Linked DNA regions of Homo sapiens. The protein of the gene in region 2 purifies or fractionates together with the protein of the main gene of each other region. This does not show direct contact. Each region holds a gene or a part of one and is shown on either strand. Other genes may lie near its edges.

The links.
Region 1: the proteins of PLCH1 (region 2) and CC2D1B fractionate together in Homo sapiens (co-fractionation; one large-scale study listed by BioGRID). This does not show direct contact.

Annotation. Positions count from the first base shown.
Region 1 is NC_000001.11:52,359,329-52,363,205, reverse strand, and holds part of CC2D1B (coiled-coil and C2 domain-containing protein 1B), read left to right. Parts: intron 1-459; coding exon 460-604; intron 605-1,589; coding exon 1,590-1,693; intron 1,694-2,073; coding exon 2,074-2,232; intron 2,233-2,656; coding exon 2,657-2,782; intron 2,783-2,972; coding exon 2,973-3,132; intron 3,133-3,322; coding exon 3,323-3,501; intron 3,502-3,671; coding exon 3,672-3,747; intron 3,748-3,848; coding exon 3,849-3,877. UniProt on the Homo sapiens protein: Transcription factor that binds specifically to the DRE (dual repressor element) and represses HTR1A gene transcription in neuronal cells.
Region 2 is NC_000003.12:155,489,028-155,494,406, reverse strand, and holds part of PLCH1 (1-phosphatidylinositol 4,5-bisphosphate phosphodiesterase eta-1), read left to right. Parts: coding exon 1-69; intron 70-158; coding exon 159-266; intron 267-1,553; coding exon 1,554-1,678; intron 1,679-3,538; coding exon 3,539-3,623; intron 3,624-5,379. UniProt on the Homo sapiens protein: The production of the second messenger molecules diacylglycerol (DAG) and inositol 1,4,5-trisphosphate (IP3) is mediated by calcium-activated phosphatidylinositol-specific phospholipase C enzymes.

The DNA of each region.
Region 1 (3,877 bases), on a different chromosome or scaffold from region 2:
AGCCAGGATGGTCTCCATCTCCTGACCTCGTGATCCACCCGCCTCGGCCTCCCAAAGTGCTGGGATTACAGGCGTGAGCCACCGCGCCTGGCCAAAAAATAGGACCTTCTTCTCAGAATTGTGAGAATTAACTGAGGTGGTTAAGATAATCACATAGAACGCTAAGAACAGTGCATGATGGCAGCTATTGCTGTTGGTTGTAATAATGGTAGTGTGTTTTAAATTCTGACTCACAAGACTGTCTCAGTTTCAGTGTGGTCTTACTGGGTTTTTTGTTGAGTCCCTAGGAAGGTAAGTGTCTCAAGGAGTAATGTTGCAGGCCTCAGTTTCTTTCTGCACATTGGGCCTCACAGACTGAAGGAGCCACTGATTGGGACTTGGAGAGCCCCAAGTCTGGCTCTGGAGCTGGACCCTACCCTGCTTGTTGTGTGGTTCCTAAGAGTCCTGCTCTGCTCTCAGATGGGGCTCTTTATGGAGTTTGGCCCTGAGGACATGCTGCTGGGCATGGATGAGGCTGAAGATGATGAGGACCTGGAGGCTGAGCTGCTGGCTCTCACAGGGGAAGCACAAACCACAGGCAAGAAGCCAGCACCCAAGGGGCAGGGTGAGTTTGGACACAGGGCTGGTCTTGGTGCTGGGACAAGATGGGCACAGGCTGGTGGTAGAGGGGTTCCCTTGCAGCTGGACGGAGCCAGCCAGATCCCCTGGTCCTTCCAATACCCATCTGCCGCACTCCCACCAAGAGGCGGCCTCGCCCTGCTTCCCCACCTTGTGTCATGGCCTGGGCTGGCCCCTCCCCATTGTGGACAAATGTGTTTCTCAGACTGACTCAGGTCCCCATCCTTAGCCCTAGCCACGGTATTGGTGTAGGGTAGGGGCCCAGTTAGCACAGACTGAACTGGGTACATAGGAAGTACATAGAAATTGTGTCCAGCGAGTTAAGTGGAATCTCCCTCCACAGCCCAGATGAGAACAGAGACTTCAGGCCTGGGAGGATCAGGAGGTCTAAATCGTCCTCTCTTTTCACCGGGAACCCTCAGAGAATCCCCCCACTCATCCCCCACCATCCTGTGTGTCCCTGAGTTGAGGATAATGGGAGGACCTAGGAAGGGGCTCACTGCTCCTGCCTTGGGGTGGCACAAGCCTAGGTTTGAATCCTAGCTCTGCCACTTAAGGATTGCAGTGATAGGAAAATTAATGTTGGAAGTTTCTCAGTTTATTCAATATATGAAAAGGGGATATTATCCATCTTGCAGATTTGTTTTGAAGCTCTGTTGGACTTTGAAAATCTTTACAGATGTGAAAGGTGTTGTTGGAGGTTGGAGAGAGTGGATGGCCATGTCTATGTCAGGCTACCGTAGGCAGAGGTGCAGAGAAAGGAGCAGCTTGTTGCTTGGTGGGGGGCCAAGGAAGGTTTCCCTGTTGAGGGTCTTTTGAACTGGGTCTTAAAGGAAGAGCAGTTTTCCAGGTGGGACTCTGCTGTGGGAGGGAAGAGGGATTTCTGCCTGGGTGGATCTACCAAGCCCCTCCTTTACTCATCCCTGAACTTATCTGAGTTGTGCTGACTTGTTGTGACCTTTTTCCCCCAGCCCCCCTGCCCATGGCCCACATCGAGAAGTTGGCGGCAGACTGTATGCGGGATGTGGAGGAGGAGGAGGAGGAGGAAGGGCTGGAGGAAGATGCAGAGCTGCTGGTGTGTCTGCCAGGCTGGTATCCCAGGGCTCTGAGGCAAGCTTGGGCCTGGTGGAGGAGAGGGCAGTGGAGAGGAGGCTGGGGGTGCCCCTGTATTCTCTGACTCTGAGTGAGTGCTTGCCCCTCCTGGCTGTACAGTGGGTGGCGTGTCTCTTTGACTTCTGGTCTAAGCTCTGCAGTTGGGGATTCTCAGATTTGGAGTAATTACTATTTTCAAGGCTATCCTCGGTCAGATTAAAGAAATGTTTTGGTGAAGGGGACTCAGGCACAGTGACTGACGTTAGGGAATATTGCTGAGAGAGAGGGTCCTTTACTCTCAGGTCCTGTTGTGGGTATGGTCTTGAGGCCCCCAAGCTCCTGGGCTGTGTTTTGTCTCCCTAGACGGAGCTGCAGGAGGTCTTAGGTGTGGACGAGGAGACTGAGCCCCTGGATGGTGATGAGGTAGCTGACCCAGGCGGCTCTGAGGAGGAGAACGGCCTAGAAGACACTGAACCTCCAGTGCAGACAGCCGTCCTGACAGCTTCAGCCCCAGCAGCTCAGGTGGGTTCTGGAGGAGGGCCCCTGTGCCTCTGATGCTCCTGTGCGCCCAGACGTAACACGTGTGTGGCCTGGCCTGCACAGCAAGGCTGCAGTCACCCTTTCCAGGACCCTCCCCCAGCAGCCGCCCCAAGCAGAAACTGAGCACAAGAAACTCCTCCGTGGCAGCCAGCCTCAAAGGCCTCTCTGTTCTCCTAGACTACCCCCCGGGAGCCATATCCTGGCTTCCACCAAGTGGGGCTCTGTATTTGCCTCTGCCATGGCCTCTGGCCTCTCCAGTGAGCCTTTGCTTCCTGCCTTAAGGCTTTTAGGCTCTTCTTTCTCCTGGAGTCCCAGAGCTCCATCTTCTAGGGCAGCTTCCGCAGAGGGAGAATGGTAGGCCTAGCAGGCCCTGGAGTGGCCAGGCCCTTAGCTGAATTGTTCATAGGCCGGAGCATCTCAGGGGCTACACGCTTTGCTGGAGGAACGGATTCACAACTACCGAGAGGCTGCGGCCAGTGCCAAGGAGGCAGGCGAAGCAGCCAAAGCCAGGCGCTGCGAGCGCGGCCTGAAGGTGAGTCGGGCTAGGCTGGGAGCAGGGCAGGGGAGGGGGCTGCATGAAAGGCGGCTGGTGGAGATCGCACCAGTGGAGGGGAGGTCACCCCACCAGACTTTGGGGGTTGGGGGGCCACCCCTGGCCTGTCTTGGAGCAGGGTCTGGGCTGAGATGGCTGGCTGGGTTTCTGGACCAGTTCTCTCCCTCAGACCTTGGAGTCGCAGCTAGCCTCTGTGAGGAGAGGCAGAAAGATCAATGAGGATGAGATCCCACCTCCAGTGGCCTTAGGAAAGCGGCCCCTGGCCCCCCAGGAACCAGCCAACAGGAGCCCTGAGACAGACCCTCCAGCTCCCCCTGCCTTGGAGTCAGGTATCTGCAGATGCCCAAATCCTGTTCTAGTTCCTGGGGTCATAGCCCACAGCGTGTGTCCCCAGCCTGCCACCACTGTTCATTACCATTGGTCACATCCTCCCCAGGACATCCTCAAGCCAGTGAAGTCCGTGGGCACCTTCTTCTGTGACCCTCATGTGCTCTCTGGGGACTGTTTGTTTCCTTATAGACAACCCCTCCCAACCTGAGACCAGCCTCCCTGGCATTTCTGCCCAGCCCGTTTCAGACTTAGACCCAGACCCGCGGGCCCTGCTGTCATCCCGACAGAGAGAGTACAAAGTGGCTGCCCTCAGTGCCAAGCGGGCTGGAGAGCTAGACCGTGCCCGAGAGCTCATGAGGATTGGGAAGGTATGGCATCTGGCTCAGGGCACCCACCCTCATTTTATAGATAGGGGAAACAGGCTCAGAAAGGGAGCTAGACTGAGATTGAGTGAGATTGGCCTAAGTGGGGGTTGTTTCAGCCCAGGCTCTTGGGGTCCCCTGTCTTTCACCCACACCTGCTTTTCCAACTTCTGCAGAGATTCGGTGCTGTCCTGGAGGCCCTGGAGAAGGGGCAGCCCGTGGATCTGAGTGCCATGCCCCCGGCACCTGAGGGTCAGTATGTATCTTCTCAGGCTGCGGTGGGGTTGGGGAGGAGTAGCAGGCCTGGGGCTGGCCAGGCCCTCCCACCTACACCTCTACTCTGGGTCCCCCAGATCTGAAGCCCCAGCAGGCTTCTCAGGCT
Region 2 (5,379 bases):
CCTCTGCCTACCGCATTGATTCCAGTAACTTCAACCCTCTCCCCTACTGGAACGCAGGCTGCCAGCTAGGTGTGTATTCCTTGGGAAGGAGTGGTTCTCTGTATATTCTCACTATGCCACCATCTTGCCTAATTCTCTCCCACTTTCAACTTGCACAGTGGCACTGAATTATCAATCTGAAGGACGAATGATGCAGTTAAACCGAGCCAAATTCAAGGCAAATGGCAATTGTGGCTATGTCCTCAAACCCCAGCAAATGTGCAAAGGTGTGTATTAATTTCATAGTCATAAATGCAGGTGTGTGTTAATTTCATAGTCTAAATGCAGGCAACCTTTATTAAGGAAGCTGTTTAGAAAGTGTGATACCCCAGAGTTTTTCAACTTTTTTTTTTCAAAAAGATAGGTTAAGGTGTTTGAATGTGAATTAGAATTCTTGTCACCACTACTTAATATTTGGTTAGCCGTGATGTTTAGAATGTTATCTTGAGAGGTCGTGTGTGAAAGAGGGACATGGATAGCATTGGGTTATCACTTGAAATCCAGTGCCCCATATAAGCTGGACTGCTTTTTAAGGTCTGAGCCCAATCTTTCAGAAACTATCTTAAGTAATGTGAGTCTGTGACCTGCTGGGAAGCTTCAATTCCACCTGAAACAATTTTATCAAGCCCTTTTACTCAGTGTAGTCCAATTACAAAACAGTGCTAACAAAAGAGAAAGGATAGGCTGGGCATGGGGGCTGACGCCTGTAATTCCAGCACTTTGTGAGGTCAAGGTGGGCGGATCACCTGAGGTCAGGAGTTTGAGACCAGCCTGGCCAACATGGTAAAACGCCGTCTCTACTGAAAATCAGAATTAGCTGGGCATAGTGGTGCGTGCCTGTAGTCCCAGCTACTTGGGAAGTTGAGGTAGGAGAATCGCTGGAACCCAGGAGGCAGAGGTTGCAGTGAGCCAAGATCACACCACTGCACTCCAGCCTGGGTGACAGAGTGAGACTCCATCTCAAAAGAAACAAAACAAAGCAAAAAAAGGATAATGTGTTAGATCAAACAACACTTTCTTTTGGTTCTGCTCATTAAAATTATTTTTAAAATTTCCAAATTACATATATAACAATTCAGATAAAAAAGTTGTTGACAGGATTATCTTCAAGATTTTACACTTTGCACATTTTCTTGCTCTGCTGTTTACTTAATTTCAAGTCTTCTTTCTGTTTGTTATATTCACTCATGCCTGAGATAGTTTAGGTTAGAAAATTATTTGAATCTGACATAATTGTTCTTCTTTTTACACTGTTGGTGTTCAAATAAAATGCTTCTCTTCCTTCATTCCACAGTTGATCATTGCATTGCAAACACTTGCTTTAAGTTGGCCCACTCCACTGGCCTTTGGCAACATGGTTTCTAATGAAAACCACAGCTATGCCACACTGATAGTTATGTGATCATGTAATTCAGCATTTGTTTTTGTTTGTTTGTTTCTTTGTTTACAAGCTTAAGCTGTGCATGCGTGTGTGTTTCTTCTTATGTTACCAACTTATACTTTACTTGGCCTAGGTACTTTCAACCCTTTCTCTGGTGACCCTCTTCCTGCCAACCCCAAAAAGCAGCTCATCCTGAAAGTTATCAGTGGACAGCAACTCCCCAAACCTCCAGACTCCATGTTTGGAGATCGAGGCGAGGTAAGTTGCCTATGACTACGTGTCTAAGTGGTTAATTATGTGATTATCTTAGTGCATTTACATTTTATCCGAAATGTCTTCAGAGATGTATGTGTGTTCATAACTGAGCACTGACCTCAGCTTATCAGACATTAACTGATTTATTGGTAAGTCACACAGTTCTTGCTGTACTGCTGTCCATCATCTATTTTGAAGGCATAAGAGCACACAATTGAATTCACAATTTAAGGTTGACACTAGCATTGCTAAAATTGGAGTGCAAAGACAATTATATTATTAACAGAACAACACCTAAGAGTATATCTTAACCTAGAAAGGCAATGTTCCGTTAATAATATAACCTCACATTCCTGTCCTCCTGCAATGCTCCTCCCTGCTGCACATCAGCCACCTGCTCCTTGGCCATGTGCTGATTCTTATTATCATCTGCTGTACCTGTGTCGCGTGATTTTAAAATGTCTTCATCTGCGGCCACAGTCTTTTTTCTTTCCAGAGCTCTTAGCCCATTGTTTCCATTATACCTTCTTGGCTTCTGTTTTCTCGCTATATAGCAGCTTCTCCTATGCTCATGCCCTTCCTCTCAGAGCTGATCCATTACTTCAGGTTCTTTGTCACTCCCGCCTATTAAACCATCATTTTTGGATCTTAAGGAAGGAAATCACAGAGCTCTACAATTTGGTACCGCCATAAATGCTTTAAGAAGTCTACTTTCTCTGCTTTAGACTTTCTTAGGTCAGCTCTTTCTAGATTCTTTGGGTTTTATTCCTTCATTGTTCGTCGCCCAGAACTGGTACCAGAAAGGAGAGTCTACAGATGACCAACAATACAAGATATTTCCCCCTAGAGGAGAGGATGGGAATTAAAGTATAAGAATCAAACATGCATAGCTTGATTAATTATTATGCCACCCAGATCAAGGCAGAGTATATCCAGAATCCCTAGAAGGCTCCTGTCCACCTTCCCAGTCAATATCTACCCTCCCCACTGCCTCTCATAGCAAACACCAACCCCTATCACAGCAGACAAATTTTGTCTATTCCTAAACTTTATATAAATGGACTCTTAGAGTAGGTACTCTTTTATGTCTGGCTTGCTCAACGTTATGTTATATAGGAGAACTTTATTCTTTTCTCATTGTTGAGAGTATTCATTGAACACATACTTCTGACCAGGCACGGTGGCTCACATTTATAATCCCAGCACTTTGAGAGGCTGAGGTGGGCAGATTGCCTGAGCTCAGGAGTTTGAGACCAGCCTGGACAACATGGCAAAACCCCATCTCTACAAAAATTACCAAAATTAGCCAGGTGTGGTGCACAATCCTATAGTCCCAGCTACTCGGGAGGCTGAGGTGGGAGGATGGCTTAAACCTGGGAGGTGGAGGCTGCCATGAGCTAAGATCATGCCACTGCACTCCGACCTGAGCTACAGAGTAAGACCCTATCTCAAAAAACAAAATAACAAAAAACAAAAAACGTATATTCCACAATTATCCATCCTACTCATGATAGAAATTTAGGTTGTTTCCAGTGTTTGACTATTATAGATACAGCTGCTCTCAGCATTTGTGCATGGGCAAAACATCTCAGTTCTGTTTGGTATTTGCCCTGAACTAAAGTTGTAGGTTCAGTGGGTAAAGTTGTTGGCGTTAATAAATACTAGCAAACAGTAATTTAATATTTTTTATACTTGTCTCATATATCTGAATCCACCACACCTAGTACCATTTCTTTTTCTTACTAAGCACCTTGTAAAATCAGTTGCTGTCGAAATGTAGACATTTTGGCCAATATTCTCAGATTAATTAACATATGTATAGAAATATGTTATTTGTAATAGTACTTTCTCTTTACTTAATAGATCATTGACCCTTTTGTTGAAGTTGAAATTATTGGATTGCCAGTAGATTGTTGTAAAGATCAAACCCGTGTGGTAGATGACAATGGTAAGATGGTAATCTGTGTTCACTTTTTAATGAAGATGGTCTAGAAATAGAATTTACACTAAAAAAAGTGTCTATGTAGAAGAGCAAGAAATCTCTAAAATCCGTAACTCCCATCTGAGTTTATGTTAAAAGCTTTTCAACACATAAAACTAAGTAACTGTGGAATTGATGCGTGGCTTATTTTTATGGTATTGTAATCTAGGCTCTCTAGACTTTTGCTTTTAAAGGAAATTTTTTTTCTAGTAAAAAGAGTAAATGATATTTTAAAGAATTGGGTTAAAAATTCACTGAGGAAATGCCTCCATTATATGTTTATATTGTATTTTTATGACATGCGTTTTCTCAAAGCTCTCATTTGTGAAGCCTATGTGTCTTGATAATTTCTCACTTTTTCTGGAGCATGTAAAACTCTAAAGGCAAGCACAATATAGTCTGGCGAGTTTACTTCTTGAATATTTACATACGATTGGAGGGGCAGCATTCTTCTTATATTTTCGCCATAATATAAAGAAATTTTTCTTTACCCAAGCCTCATGTCTTTTTATTTGTAATCTTTTAAAATTTGTTTGTTCATACATTTCACAAACATTATTGTATACCTATTTTTCCTCAATCTCTTGTGATTAATACTGTAAAATACATTTGAAGCACAATCATTAATTTGAGAAATTAAGGGTTCACAAGGAGTCCCTGAAGGAACACTACAGTTTCAGAGTAGGGCAAACCTATAACTTAGGAAAAACATGTACACAGAAAGAAACCTTCTCAAATTGCATTTTCCCACCGATGTTCAATAGATTCTTCTTTCTTTTTTTAGTCTCAGAAATAATTGAGAGGTCATCACTAAGTCAACAAAAAGATCTTCTCTGATTCAAGAGAGGTATCTCAGTGATTTTTCAGCTCATAATTATTTCATTAGCTCGAGGCTTTTTGATAGGGTTAAGTGGTTGATACCTCCGAAATGCATACATTTTTAAACACTTATTTTCATTTTTAGAAAGGAAGAAAAACAGAAACTTATGGAGTACTTGAATTTTTAACAACTTTTATAGTTATTTTATTGGAGAGAATTTTACCAAGTAAATGTATTTTTGCATTTTAGTATTTGAGGTGAATTATATACCTTATTAACTTATTTTTCAGTAGCTGTGAAAATATGCCATCATTCATGCAGTAAGGTCTTGCTTCGTGAGAAGCTACTGGGAATCAATAGTGCATGGTCTAATTTGACCCTGTCACTAACTATAAGGCCTTGTGTGGCCTTGGGCACATTATTGTCTATGAACATCAATTTTCTCAACTACAAAATGTCTTATAAATACTGATATTCCCTACTTTAAAAGATGAGTGTTACTTGTACAGTTTTTGAAAGTAATATATTTTTGAAAGTCAGTAATATATATTTTTTAATTAGAAAGAAACAAAAACCAAAACCCTGCTCTACTCTAAAAACTCTAAACATCCTCTAAAAAAAACTTAGAGAATTGCTATAAGAAATAAGAGGATGTATGTACAATAGGAGTTGAAACCTGCAAATGCACCTTATAAAATGGTTGTTGGTGGTTATTACAGCAGCAGGATCTTTGGTGCATGAGAAGCATAATTCTGTTGGGAGAGGATATCATTCTTTATTGTTTTGTCTAAAACATTATTCTTAGATCACTACTATAGATAATTTTTTAACTTATTGAAGCATTCTGAATACTAAAGAGCTTCTCTACAATACAGTTAGGCATCAAAGATTAATAGATTTGAT